Linked DNA regions of Homo sapiens. The protein of the gene in region 2 interacts with the protein of the main gene of each other region in a pairwise test. Each region holds a gene or a part of one and is shown on either strand. Other genes may lie near its edges.

Region 1 (3,752 bases), on a different chromosome or scaffold from region 2:
CCCCCCAGCACCAAGGGAGGCGCCATGGGGTTCCTGTTCCCAGAGTGGGGGTAGAGTCCCCTCGGGTGGACGCGCCCTCCCCAGCAGCGGGCCTAGCGGGACACTTACAGGTCCAGGCTCTGAAGCTATTTTCCGCCCTTTATCTCCCATCTGTCACGAGGCCTCCAGTTACACACTGTCCCTGCCAGAGGCCCCAGGCCTCCCCGCCCCCACCTGCCGAGCATGCCAGAGCCACTCCTTCCCTGCTTCCACTGGGGAAAATGAGGCCCAGGGAGGTCACACCACTTACCCGAGGTCACAGAGCCAAAGAAGGACAGAGCCCAGGACTTGAGCCAGACCTCTCTTCCAGAAGGGGAAGCGTGAAGCCCAGTTAGGGAGGGGATGGCAGGGCTCAGGGAGGCTGTCTGGGAGCAGAGCATGGCCCACGTGAAGGTGCATCTCTGGAGAGGGGACCGCGGAGCTCAGGGAGGCTGCCTGGGAGCAGAGCGTGGCCCACGTGAAGGTGCATCTCTGGAGAGGGGACCTCAGGGCTCAGGGAGGCTGCCTGGGAGCAGAGCGTGGCCCAGGGGAAGGTGCATCTCTGGAGAGGGCCCCAGGGCTCCCGGAGGGGAGGTGTCATCCCATAGGATGTCCTGACTGTCCAGACACAGCCAGAGCCACCTGAGCTCTGTTCCTGGGCACATTCCCTCCCCGAGTGATGCCAACAGTGGCTGATGGCACAGAGCACAGGCTTGGTGCGGACTCGGGTCTGTGCACTGACTCCCACCCTCACGCGAGCCCGCAGAGGCTGCTGCTCTCCTCACCCCCATTTCACAGCTGAGCAGACCAACGCCCAGGCAGATTAGGAGACTTGCCTAAGGTCACACGTGGTCACACAAGGTGCTCTGGAGCCCACACCTGAAGAGGGGGAGGTGCTGTCCCGTAGGAAGTCCTGACTGTCCACATTCCGGCAGAACTCTGTGCCCCAGAAGGCGAAGTCGCGTCCTCCCCAAGTTATGCTGCTCAGCAACAGATGGTTAATGCCACAGCCAGGCACCCTCACAAACACACTGCCTACGCCTGCACATTCACATACACTCTACACAAACACACACACATTCACCCACACATACGCAGATACACTCACACACACACACGGGCACATGCATGGACACACACACACATGCATATTCACATGCACGCACAGAAATACAAGTACACATATGCACACATAGCCACACCTCCATGCACACATTCACACACACAGACACCCCACACGTGCACACTCATGCCCTCTGACACACGTGCCCACTCTCACACTTGCACACTCAGGGGAATACTCACACATGTGTGCACTCACACACGTGCACACACACACTGTTTTCCCACCATCCCTTGGACAGACCCCAGGCCAAGGAGGGGTGAATAGCGAGAGCTGCTGGCAGGAGCTGGGGGAGACTGCGTCCAGCCCTGCATCCCTGCGTGACTCCGTCGGCCCAAGCCTCTCCAGGCCTGTTTCCCCATGAGGAGTGAACCTGGCTGGGCCCCCTGGAATGCTGCTGCAGGGTCGCCTGGCAAGGGGCTGTGGCCCTGGGCACGCCAGCCAGCCCCAGGCCGTGCAGCCCCAGGAAATGACCCCGAATGCACAAGCCTCCTTCCGCCGGGCAGTGGGAGAGCCCGGGCTCTGGGTCCAAGAGGTCACTGGGGGGCTCTGCTCCACCCCCAACCCCACCCTGGGCTTTAGCAGAGTTTCTATCCCACCCAGGGTGGAAACTGAGTCAATGGCATCCAGAGAGCCCTTCCAGCCCCAGCCCTGCTACGGACAGGCAGTCAAGGTTGCCCTGCCAGGCAGCATCCCCAAAACACCAGGACAGGCCTGGCACTCTGTGGCTTCCCTAACCCTGGGGATCACGCAGAGCCCACATTCCAGGTGACCTGGCCCCAGGAGACGGGGCCCCAGCTCAGCTGGGCCTGCAAGCACAACCTCTCCCACAGCCACTCTCTGAGAGCAGGTCCTGAAGATAAGCCGCCCCTCCCCGCCACCCCCCTGGATGGCCGGCTCCTGCCACAACCCTATTTGCAATAAAAACCTGATCCGGCGATAGCAGAAAATTGCTCTCTTTTGAAATAATTGAACCCGTCCAGACAGTGTCCTCCCAGACATCATTAACAGGGCACTCTGCTTGTCTGCAGTATTTATGCCCACTTGGGGAGGTGGTCATGGCCACCCTGTTATCTCCTGTAGAGGACGGCACACGGCTGCTGGAGTCACTGCAGTATCCACCCAAACCACTCCTCCCACAGGCCTGCCCTGAACCTCTGAGGCACCCATCCCTTTGGGGGACCCTGGAGGAGTTATCCTTGAGGACCATGTAGGCCCCTCACTCTCACCCTCCCCCTTCTCAGCCCTTGGGGGCAGGGTCCTTGGAGGACCACGGGGAGCCAGGGAAGCATCTCAGGAAATGCAAACACCTGCCCTGTGAGGGGCAGGGGCGGCAGTACCCTCCAAGGACCCCAGGGCAGGGGAGAACCTGAAGGGCAGCAGGAGGTCCCCACACTGCCCCCTATCCAGCTGGGAGCAGGGCAGGGAGGACCTGGCCTGGCATCAGCTCCCAGGGAAGCCCCAGCCCCCTCTGGCCTCAGTTTCCCGACCTGAAGCAAGAGAGGCAGGCTCATCACCCCCAGAGCCCTTGAAAGGCAGACACCTGCACCTGCACAGATGCCTGGTAGGCACTGCACCCCTCTGTAGGGAGGAGTGCCCAAAAGTCAAGAACCCTGCCAAGGCTGTGAGAGAAAATTCACACTTGGGGGGCTCCACCGGTGAGCACGAATGAGGAGAGCACAGCCTCTGCCGCCAAAGACACGGGGGTGGAGGCGAGGAGGCGCCATTCACAGCCAGGAAGCAACCAGCGCAACAGAGGAGGGGACAGAGAGACAGAGATAGAGGTAGAGAGATAGAGAGAGAATCAGAGAGAGGAAGGGGGACAGAGACAGAAACAGGGAGATAGAGACAGAATTAGAGAGAGGCAGGGAGACAGAGATGGAGACAGAGAGAGAGACATAGAAAGATAGAGACAGAATCAGAGAGAGGCAGGGGGACAGAGAGATGGAGACAGAGAGATAGAGACACAGAATCGGCGGGGGCGCGGTGCAGAGAGAGACACAGAGAGAGAGTGTGAGCCGTGCTGAGGGGTGGGCCCCCAGGAGCCCAGGGGCGCCCCACCAGCACCAGCCCAAAAAGGTGGGCATGACCCTCTGGGAAGCCTTTCTGTGGACCCGGTCTCAGAGCCCTGACAATTCCCAGTCCCCAGCCCCAGGGCTTCCCGCTACCGAAAGGAGACAAAGCAAAGATGTTTCTTGCAGCCTTATCCATGACCTCCAAACATTGCAAATGACAATACTAAAATGCAACCCTCATGAATACCCAATCATCGAGGGTGACTTTCAGTGACGGGACCTCGGCCCAGTGGAATATTATGCAGCCATTAAAGATGATAATTATGAAGACCGTGGCAGCAAAGGAAATTGCTTGCGATGGCATTTCTGAACGAGCAGGGAACAGGATTTACCTGCACTGGGGACACCACAGAGGAAAAGTGGTGTCTGCTCAACAGCGTGGCCGGTCGCAAGCCCGGGAAGCCAGCCTGGCTTCCAGGAAAGAATTTTCTCCTCCTCTTATTTTCATTCCTCTGAGTGCCACTTGTGCAGTAAATAATAAATAACGTCTCTGCTTATCTTAGGACCATGTTCCAGTAAATGAGGACTGCAGCAGG
Region 2 (3,752 bases):
CCCCTGCCCCGCTTCATTTCTCTTCACAGTGCTCACATCTGTATGTCATGTTTTGTCTCTGTCTCCCCTGCTAGAGCATGAGCTCCACAAGGCAGCGTCTGTTTTATTCACTCTGGTATTCCCAGTCCCTAGAGCAGCGCTGTCCTGTGGAAGTATAATATGAGCCACATAGGTAATTTATTATTTTTTAAAAGAAAAAAGGAACAGGTGAAATGAATGTTGATAATGGATTTTCCTTATATAGCCAGACTAATACCCTGTATATTATATATGTATACAGGATATACATACATAGAGATATATATATGTATATAGCCAATATATAGCCAATATAAAAAATGTATCCAGATAATCTGTTTTTTTCATACTAAGCCCTAAAGATCTAGCGTGTACTTTACACTAACAGAGCATTTCAGTCTACACTCGCCTCAGTTCAGGTGCTCCAGAAGGAGAGACTGCCCTGTTGGCTGGGACCCCAGAGCAACTCCTGACTCACTGTGGGAGCTCACTTACTGTTGAGTGAACGGACGGATGTAGGTTGAACGGGTGTGAAAGCTGGCTTCAGAGGGTGGGGAGGAGGCACTGGGGTTGCCTCTCTGAAACTCATCTGCCAAGTGAGAGAGCCCAGTCTGATGGGGATGGTAGGGCCCCTTTCTTAGAGGCTCCCAGGCATCCACGGCACAGCCTGCGTCTTTTTCTACAAAGCCCCAGACCTCAGGAGGCTTTCCAGATAGGAGGGTCAGAGGTAGACACCAGGGTGTGGGAACCAGAGGACAGGCTGTCTAGTGACAGCCATCTAAACTTCACCTGCACCAGCAGAGGGCGTGCAGCCACCAGGATCCGGGTGGCAAGGGCTGAGACAGCTTCGAGAGGCTCTGGAAGGAAAGGTAGGAACACACCCAGAAGGAGAGATGGAGACAGAGGAAGGCAAAGGGAAAAAGAAACAGCAGAGGAAGGAAAGAGAAGACTTAGGGAATGGAGAGTCTCTGAGATATGGGAAGGGAAGCACAGAGACTGAGATACAGGGAAGAAAACGGGGACAAGCGACATGGAGGCAGAGAGACAGGACGTGGGGAAGAGAGACTGGGAGAAAGATAGAGAGAAAGAGCCAAAGAGAAATGTAACGAAGAGGCAAGGACAGAGACATAGAGGAGATAGAGACACTGAGGAAGGAGATCTTCCTGAGGAACAGAAATGACATCTCCCTGGGGGAATCCTGGGATGCGACTTCAGACACATGCTGATCCTCAGAGCCAGCACGACCTGATGCCAGTCCTGAGTTCTATTCCCAGCTTAGCTCTCTCTGGCAAGCAGCCCTGGGTGAACCATCTCATTGGGCCTCAGGGTCCTCGTTCATGTAACATGAGAAAGACACTGAGAGGGCTGGGTATGGTGGCTCACACCTGTAATCCCAGCACTTTGCGAGGCCAAGGTGGGCGGATCACTTGAGGTCAGGAGTTCGAGACCAGCCTTGCCAACAGGGTGAAACCCCATCTCTACTAAAAATACAAAAATTAGCTGGGCCTGGTAGCAGGCACCTGTAATCCCAGCTACTCGGGAGGCTGACGCAGGAGAATTGCTTGAACCTTGGAGGCAGAAGTTGCAGTGAGCGGAGATCACGCTACTGCACTCCAGCCTGGGTGACACAGCGAGACTCCATCTCAAAAAAAAAAAAAACAGTGAGAGGAGGAAAACAGACTGGGGCTAAAGCCCTGGTCTCCCCCTAACTGTGAGTCCACACGCCCCTTCCCAAGGGCCAAACCTAGGAGCATAGGTTCAAGACAGAGGGGGTGCAAATTTCACTCACTGCAGAGAATCCTGGAAGAGTTAGAGGGATGAGAAAGTTGACTCATATGTTAAACAGGGTGACCTTTGGCGAGTTCTTAGTTTCTCTATGCCTTAGTCCCCTCATTTGTAAAGTAGGGATTATAATAGCATCGATTATTATTATGCTAGTAGACAGTTCATGTAAAGTGCTCAGAAAAGGCCTGGCACCTACTAAATGCTCAATAAGTGTTCAATTCTATTCTTGAGTCCCCACCACGTGCCAGGCCTTCTGCCAAAGCCTTTCTAGATTGTATCTCATTTTCTCTCTAGGAAAGAGGTAACACCAACCCCATTTTCCAGAGGAAGAAACTGAGGCCCAAGAGAAGTTGAGTCCATTGCCCCAGGTGCCACCACTTGTCTGAGGCCAAGCCTCGGTTGCCCCCTGGATCTACCCCGTCCTGCAGCCTGTGCTCAGTGAGCTGCTGCACCCAGCTGTTCAAGGCCAGGGCAGGGAGCCTAGAAGTTCACTTCCAGCCCTGGGAGAGAGGCTGGGCCAGCCCAGTGGCTCCTGCAGTTGAGGATCTCTTCCTATGTCATGGAGCATTTGTTGAGCACCTGCCATCTGCAGGTGTTGTGGCTACAACAGTAGACAAATAGACCCCAGGACGTGTGTGTGTGTGTGTGTGTGTGTGTGTGTGTGTGTGTACATGCGTGTGCTTCACATACACAGAGCTAACTCAGCCCTGGTGAGGAGGATCACTCTACCCACCCCCCCAGTAGGGAAACCGAGGCTCTAACAGAAGAGACTTGCCCACAGATGTGCAGCTGGACTCTGCACCCAGGTCTGACACACTGATCCAGCTCATAACCATTCCCTCACTGCCCACCCTGTCTGGTTTACCCTATCCCTTCATGTCTCAGCCCCTGGCCATGGGCTCCAATGATGCCACCCTTGCCTTAGGGATGCAGGGAGGAGAGAGACCTGGTCCCCAGGGTGGGCTGGGAGACCGGAGATGCAGCAGGCGGGATCGATCTGGGCTGCCCATGCATTATTGGATTGTTCCTGGCTCCTGGGCCCCCCCTTCACTCTCAGCTCCTCCCAGAATCCTCTCTTCTTTGCCCTCCCCGACCCTGTCCCTCTCTGAGTCCAGCCTGGGAGGCTGGAGAGGAGAGGAGGAAAGGGTGATCTCAGAGCGTTCTTCTCTGGGCTCCTAAGCCAATTGGACACAAAAAGACAGCAGGGGGGACTTCCTGGTTTGAAAGATGGGGGGAAGTAACTCAGAGACCCTCACATTGTTGCCCCCTCCTGAAGCTTCCTGCTGTTCCCCACCCGCCCGAACTCTCAGTGCTCTGAGTGAATTCCCTCCCCGCTACAGAGCCCAGGAGGCTGAGGACCTGGGGTCACCCCTCTTCCTTCCTTATTCTTCCCACTGGTGAGCTGAGCCCTCTTGTCTCCCCAGTGTACCTCCGGGAGCGGCCTGAGGAGGCAAGGCTGGGAATGCCGGTCAGCTTGGAGGAGCAAATACTCAACTCCACGTTCGAAGCTTGTGACCCTCAGAGGACAGGTGGTGGGGGCATGAGGGGTGCTGGGGACCAGTGCGGGCAGGATGGGGTGGAGGCTGGGAACTGGGGAGCCTCAGAGAGAAGACTGGGCTAAGGCCCCCTCTTGGGGGTATTGTAAGAACAAAGTGGGTGATTATGGGAAGCTTCAGGAAGAAGAACGTGGATAATGGGGTGAAGGCCTTTTAGAATGAGGAAAACTTGGGGGACGTTGATGGAAGAGGGCAGAGTTTTGGGGTCGTGGGATAGGGGAGGGAGGCAGCCACCATGGTGGCGTGGGGCATGGCTGATGCTGTCCCTATGTCCATCCCCTTTGGTTTACCCTGTGATGGGGGGATGACTGGGCCCCATTTCCAGGTGAAAAAGTGGACTCAGAGGAGGGGAAAGGGCTTGCCCAGTGTGTCTCCACTGGGCCATGGAGCAGG

Evidence for each region.
Region 1: the proteins of KASH5 (region 2) and C14orf180 interact in binary tests that used the Homo sapiens proteins (3 or more experiments, as listed by UniProt).

Annotation. Positions count from the first base shown.
Region 1 is NC_000014.9:104,582,696-104,586,447, forward strand, and holds part of C14orf180 (nutritionally-regulated adipose and cardiac enriched protein homolog), read left to right. Parts: intron 1-3,719; 5' UTR 3,720-3,735; coding exon 3,736-3,752.
Region 2 is NC_000019.10:49,391,249-49,395,000, forward strand, and holds part of KASH5 (protein KASH5), read left to right. Parts: intron 1-2,097; exon of another isoform or gene 2,098-2,151; coding exon of another isoform or gene 2,152-2,152; exon of another isoform or gene 2,153-2,171; intron 2,172-2,228; exon of another isoform or gene 2,229-2,584; coding exon of another isoform or gene 2,585-2,609; intron 2,610-3,227; coding exon 3,228-3,332; intron 3,333-3,752. UniProt on the Homo sapiens protein: As a component of the LINC (LInker of Nucleoskeleton and Cytoskeleton) complex, involved in the connection between the nuclear lamina and the cytoskeleton.